2 separate regions of the Homo sapiens genome follow, and region 2 is linked to region 1. Evidence: fine-mapped expression QTL. Tissue or cell type: whole blood. Region 1 holds a variant in brackets; the other region holds the start of a gene. All regions are shown on one strand. Distances are from middle to middle.

The links. PIP is the estimated chance that this variant, and not a neighbour inherited with it, causes the effect. A credible set is the group of variants that fine-mapping cannot tell apart.
Region 2: OAS3 starts here. The variant in region 1 is the best candidate, but not a certain one, in a credible set for the expression of OAS3 in whole blood (TOPMed, PIP 0.87).

Annotation. Positions count from the first base shown.
Region 1 is chr12:112,891,277-112,894,187 of GRCh38, forward strand. The region is part of intron 19 of RPH3A (rabphilin 3A); the gene reads left to right. Among named protein-coding and RNA genes, the nearest start is that of OAS1, 14 kb to the right of the region's middle. The variant G/A (reference allele first, on the strand shown) is at 1,374.
Region 2 is chr12:112,936,978-112,939,888 of GRCh38, forward strand. OAS3 (2'-5'-oligoadenylate synthetase 3) reads left to right here and starts at 1,497. Exons shown (of 16, transcript NM_006187.4): 1 at 1,497-1,730. The coding sequence starts at 1,554. RefSeq lists enhancers at 1,116-1,285, 1,180-1,489, 1,453-1,622, 2,046-2,215 and a silencer at 1,710-1,799.

The sequences.
Region 1 (2,911 bases):
TAGTTATAGTAGCCCCATTTGTACTCCCAGGAGTTGGCCGCACACCCCTCGGACCGCTCAGACCTCCACCACCAAAGAGGCCATCTGGCATTTTCCAGATTCATTCTGGAAATGCTCAGAAAAAAAACATGCCTTCAGTCTGGGGTCTGTTCCAGCAATCTCATCATGGAGAATAAAAGGGACTCTGTTATCTGTGTTAGTCCAGATCCTCTGAGAAGAAGATGCCAAAATAGGATTAAGCAGACAAGGGGTTTATCAGGGGAAATGCCCATTCCAGGAAGTCTGCAGGGAGTCAGGGGAGAAAGGGAGAGATGTTAGACTACAATGCAAGTCTGACCTGAGTGAGGGGACTAGATAGAGAAGTTGGAGGGAAGCATTCCAGATACAAGTTCAGTAAGGCCACCAGGGAGTCCTCAAGCCAAAACTGGCCATCAGACATGTCCTGTATCTCATAGGAGTGGGCCGACCTTAGCATCCCTGCCAGGCCCAGTCATTGGCTGGGAGCATGGCCTTGGCACAAATATGTCATGGACTTCCAAGCACTGCATCCAGGGCCTTGGTCAGTTACGCTTCCTGTAGCTGGAGGTCTGCCAGGTGCAATCTCATAGCCACCGCTGTGTCAGACATCAGGCCCTATTCTCATCTCTGCCAGCTGCTGGCTGTGGACTCTAAGCAAGTTATTTAGCTTCTCATTCAGTTTCTTCATTGGTAAAATGGAGACAAGAGTTCCACTTATCTCCAAGGTGGGCTTAAGGCTCAAATGAGATAGCACAAAGAAAGCAAACAGAATCGAGCCTGGTACAGAAATGTTTAGCACCTCAGTAGAATTCTGCTGGCCTTGGGGCAGCAACATGTATGTTTCTGTGGATGTGGATCTCCATGGAGCATGGAGTCTCCAGTATGCTCTAGCTATGTGACCTGGGGCTCATAGCTTAACATCTCTAGGCCTCAGTGTGCTCATCTGCAAAATGGACAGAGTAATACTGTAATACTGTATATTAGTTCAGGTCCTCCAAGAAGGAAACACCAAGAGAAGATACAGGTGTGCCTGTAGAGGAGATAAGGAGGAATCCAGAGGGGACCCATAGAGACCACAGACCTTGCTACAGGTATGACCCCTGTGGAGCAGAGAAGGAAGGAAGTTTGGGTAGAAACAATCTTAGGCTACAGTGCAGCTCCAAGGAAGCTGCACTATTTCATCCAAGGTGATGGAGAATCCTTGAGCACAGTCACCCATCAGAGGAGTCCTGCATTTCCCAGAAATGGGGCTGCCTAGTGTCCCTGCTAGCGTCAGTTATTGGCTAAGAACACTTGTGGGAAGCGTGGCTTCAGCAAGAACATCATGAATACAGAGCCCAGTAGCTTGTTCATCA[G/A]TTTTACCCCCTGCAACTGGAGAATGCAGGCTGAGAGGTACATTTTCAAGGGGTCTGGTACACAGTAAATGCTAATAAATACCTGCCATTATGGTTATAAATAACCACCATCACTGTCCTTACTCATGGCAGAGAGTATTTACTAATATCCCCTCCAGTTGGGAGACACTCCCCCCACCTCCACTGCCTCTGATAACAGAAAGCAATACTTCCCTTTAGTCCATGGCCAAAGAACAGATCCATGTGGGCTGTCTTTCACATTTCCTTTGAATGAAGATTTAGTTAACAAAGAACACACAGGTCAGGGACAAGTTTGGTTTCTAAGAGTAATTTGATTTTATTTCCTCGTATGACCCAAGAGAGGAAATGAGCTCAAGGGGTGCTGTCCAGCACTCCATTAGAGGTCAGCCATGTGCAGATTGGTTTTCTTAAATAATTCTCTCTACCACCCCCTCCCCCACCTACCCAATCCTTCCAGAAGAAGTAGAATTGCCGTGGTCACTACTGAAGCAGCTGACCTGCTGGGTGCAGTTATGGGAGAAAAAATGGGAGACCACTAAGCAGTTTCTGATCAAATAAAGATTTTTTAAAAGCCAGAACTTCCCATTATTTTTGCTTAGCTCTTTGGTAACTTCTAATTCCTCATTTTTGTCTCTTCTTAAAAATTATCCTCAAAACCACTTCTGTAGATGAGAATGAAATGTTCGCCCTCTTTACAGGTCAAGAAACAGAGGCACGGTAAAGTTACGCTCATGTTTAAAGTTGCTCCGCTGGTGACAACCTGAATCAGAATCCAAATGTCCCAGCCCTTAGGAGTGTTTAGCCCATTGTGTTTACTCACCCAGGAAATATTTTGTTTTGTTTGGTTTGTGTTTTGTTCTCTCTCTCTTTTTTAAGAGACAGGGTCTCGCTCTATTGCCCAGGCTGTAGTGCAGTGGTGTGATCATAGCTCACTGCAGCCTCGAACTCTGGGGCTCAAGAGATCCTTCCACCTCAGCTTCCTGAGTACCTGGGACTGAAGGCATACATCACTGTGCCCAGATAATTTTTGTTATTTTTTATAGAGACAGGCTCTCGCTATGTTGCCCAGGCCGGTCTGGAACTCCTGGGCTCAAGTGATCCTCCCGCTTTGGCCTCCTAAAGTGCAGAGATTACAGGCACGAGCCACCATACGCAGCCTCACCCAGAAAATATTGATTGAGTACCTACTATGTGCCAGACACTGGGCCTCACTGGAAAAGAGCCCTGTAGGCAGAAGAAACAGTTTGCTCAAAGGCCCTTGGGTGGAAAGGAGAAGTAAGGAGTGGGGTGAGGAGGATGGCATAAGGTTAGGTTGGGATGGAGCAGAAACCCAACACACACGGTCTTAAGGCCACATGAAGGATTTTGAACTCTCCCCTGAGTTTAAAAGGAACCCAGTACACAGTTTTGAGAAGTGGAGTGACAATAATCAGATTTGCATCTTCCCCTTTCTGTGCATACACCCAGCCTCTCTCTAGGGATTGGGGGCAGCCTAAGGTGGGATAGATGGTAAAATG
Region 2 (2,911 bases), 46 kb after region 1:
TCTTTGCTGCTATTTTAATAGAATTTTGAGCATGTGTTCAATCCACTATCTTGAATGGAAAGTTTCTAAAGTGGCCTGTGACTCAGGAAGAAGACTGTGATTAATGGGCGAGAATGAAAATCATTGCTCAATCCCTTGACTTAAATCCCCACCACAACACCTGACCTACAAAACCTGCCCATACTTGAATATTCCAAGTGATGCAGCATTCACTACTCAAAATATTAGCTGGTGTACATATTACAGACCCAGCATCTCTCCCTCTAGTTGACCATGACCTCTGAAATTCACACTCTGATCCTATCTATTTCCTTTCAGTTACCGTGCAGATGTCAGGAAGCACTTGTTAAGACTATTACCTGAAGTGTACTCAGAGGCAGAGTAAATGCTGGGTCCCGGAGCAGACAGGAGAGAGGACCTGGGAGTTTTTTAGTAAGATGGGGAGGAGGAGATAGGCTATGGCTTGGACCAGGCCTGGAAGAGAGCTCAGGTGTGCAGTCTCTAGGAACCCGGGTGGAGAAGCAGCAGGAAATAAGCAGAAAAAGGAGACAGGCCATGAAGATAGAAGCGCAATGGTCCTGGATTCAAATCTCCACTCTGCAGCTTATAGCTTACAGTCCGCTTAGCTTTGTGCCCATTCCAAGAGGATTTCCCTATTGTAGCTTTACAATGTTTTAATATGTAGTATTGTTGTGCAAGGTACCATCCTAAACTGACTGACTTTCCTTCCTCCTTCTCCTCCAAAATAATTTTTAATTCTTGCAGACAGACTTTAGATCGTGTGTTTGAAGTTTTTAAAGATGGAATTTTTATTGGAACTGCATTACACGTATAAATTATTTAGGAAGAGTTGGCTTCTGAAGAGGGCAGCTCTGTGGGCTTGGGCTGGGTTTGAATCCAGCCAGACAACTTTCCAGCTGTGTTACCTTGGACAGTTACCTAGTTCCTCTGTACCTTGACTTCCTCATCTGTCAAATGGGTGATGATAATAGCACCTACACCATGGTCGTTGGGAGGAGTCAGTGAGAGTCTCCAAGTGTGCTTTATTATCGTTGGTGGTGGTAGTGGTGTTTAGAACGCATCCCTCAGTCAGACAGCGAGGTAGGACTTCTCCGTTTATTAAATCCTGACCTTTTTTTTCCATGTAAAACCTGCACGTTTCTGAAATGCTCAGAGTACGTTACTCAGTATGTACCCATATGTTCTGTGGGTATACTTTGTTAGGTTGTGATTAGTTCGTTGGAGCTGGTGGTTGCAGGGACGGCTGGAAGCAAGGAGATGAAGGAGAGGAAGTCGTAGCTGGGAAGGGGACCAGGAAGTGGGTGTCAGGTCCAAGAGCTGCTAGAAAGAAACGAAACTGAAAGCAGGGAATTTCCCAAGTTTGGGGAAGACAGGAACTGCAGCGCCCCTCCCCGTTTCACGCCACGCGCGGGACCGAGGACCTAGGACCTGGCCAGCTGGGCGTGGTTCGGAGAGCCGGGCGGGAAAACGAAACCAGAAATCCGAAGGCCGCGCCAGAGCCCTGCTTCCCCTTGCACCTGCGCCGGGCGGCCATGGACTTGTACAGCACCCCGGCCGCTGCGCTGGACAGGTTCGTGGCCAGAAGGCTGCAGCCGCGGAAGGAGTTCGTAGAGAAGGCGCGGCGCGCTCTGGGCGCCCTGGCCGCTGCCCTGAGGGAGCGCGGGGGCCGCCTCGGTGCTGCTGCCCCGCGGGTGCTGAAAACTGTCAAGGTGAGGTCCCACCTCGGGGTCTTTATGTGTCCAAAGGGGAGTCCTGGGAGGACGCTTAAGCCTCACATAGGCTTACGGTGGGGGTGGCTTTATCCGCTTGTGCACCTCATTCATTTCTTTAACAAATACTTCCAATGTGCCAGCCCCGTGCTAACTCCCCCGAACATACGAGCCAGGTAGGTACTCTTAAGCCCGCTTGACAGATAGAGAAAATGAGGCACAGAGAGGTACAGTGACGTGTCCGATCCTGTAAGAGGCCCAGCCAGGATTCAAATCCAAGTAGCCTGATTCCTGCATCTCTACTCTCAGAGGCTGCTTCTTATCCATTCATTCACTCATTCACTCATTCTCCCAGTCATTCAAACAGACTGTGGGCCTCACACTATGCCAGACCTTAAGGTTACAGAAGTAATAACACTCCGCGTAACAGCCAGAGTAGCCCAATTTATTGAGACATTATCAAATAACAATGAAAATTATCTCATTAAATGAGTATTACCTCATTTCATCCCCACGTTCAGTGAGGCAGGTATTATTGTACCTGTTTTATGGATAGGGAAACTGAGGCTAGACGCTAAATTACTACTCTGAGTCACATCTTTTTTTTTTTTTTTTTTTTTTTTTTTTTTTGAGACAGGGTCTCGCTCTGTCACCCAGGCTGGAGTGCAGTAGCATGATCTTGGCTCACAGCAACCTCCGCCTCCTGGGCTCAAGTTATTCTCACACCTCAGCCTCCCAAGTAGCTGGCACTACAGGTGCACACTACCATGCCTGGCTAATTATTTGCATTTTTTGTAGAGATAGAGTTTTGCCGTGTTGCCCAGGCTGGCCTGGAACTCCTGGGCTCAAGTGATCCACTTGCCTTGGCCTTTCAAAGTGCTGGGATTACAGGTGTGAGCCACCATGCCCAGGTAATTTTTGCATTTTTTGTAGAGACGGGATTTCACCATGTTGCCCAGGCTCCGGGTCACTTTTTGTCACTTAAATACAGCCACACTGCCACTGTGATCCCAGGACACTCGCAGATTCAGGGAGGAGACAAGTCATGAGCTACCTTATCCTCAGGGTAGATTTGGGGGTGCCAGGAGTGGATTGATGGAGGGAACCTGGGTGTGCTAGAGGAGGTTGTCAGGAGAGGGAGTGAAAACGCAGAGTAGAAATGGCCTCAGAGCACCTAGTGG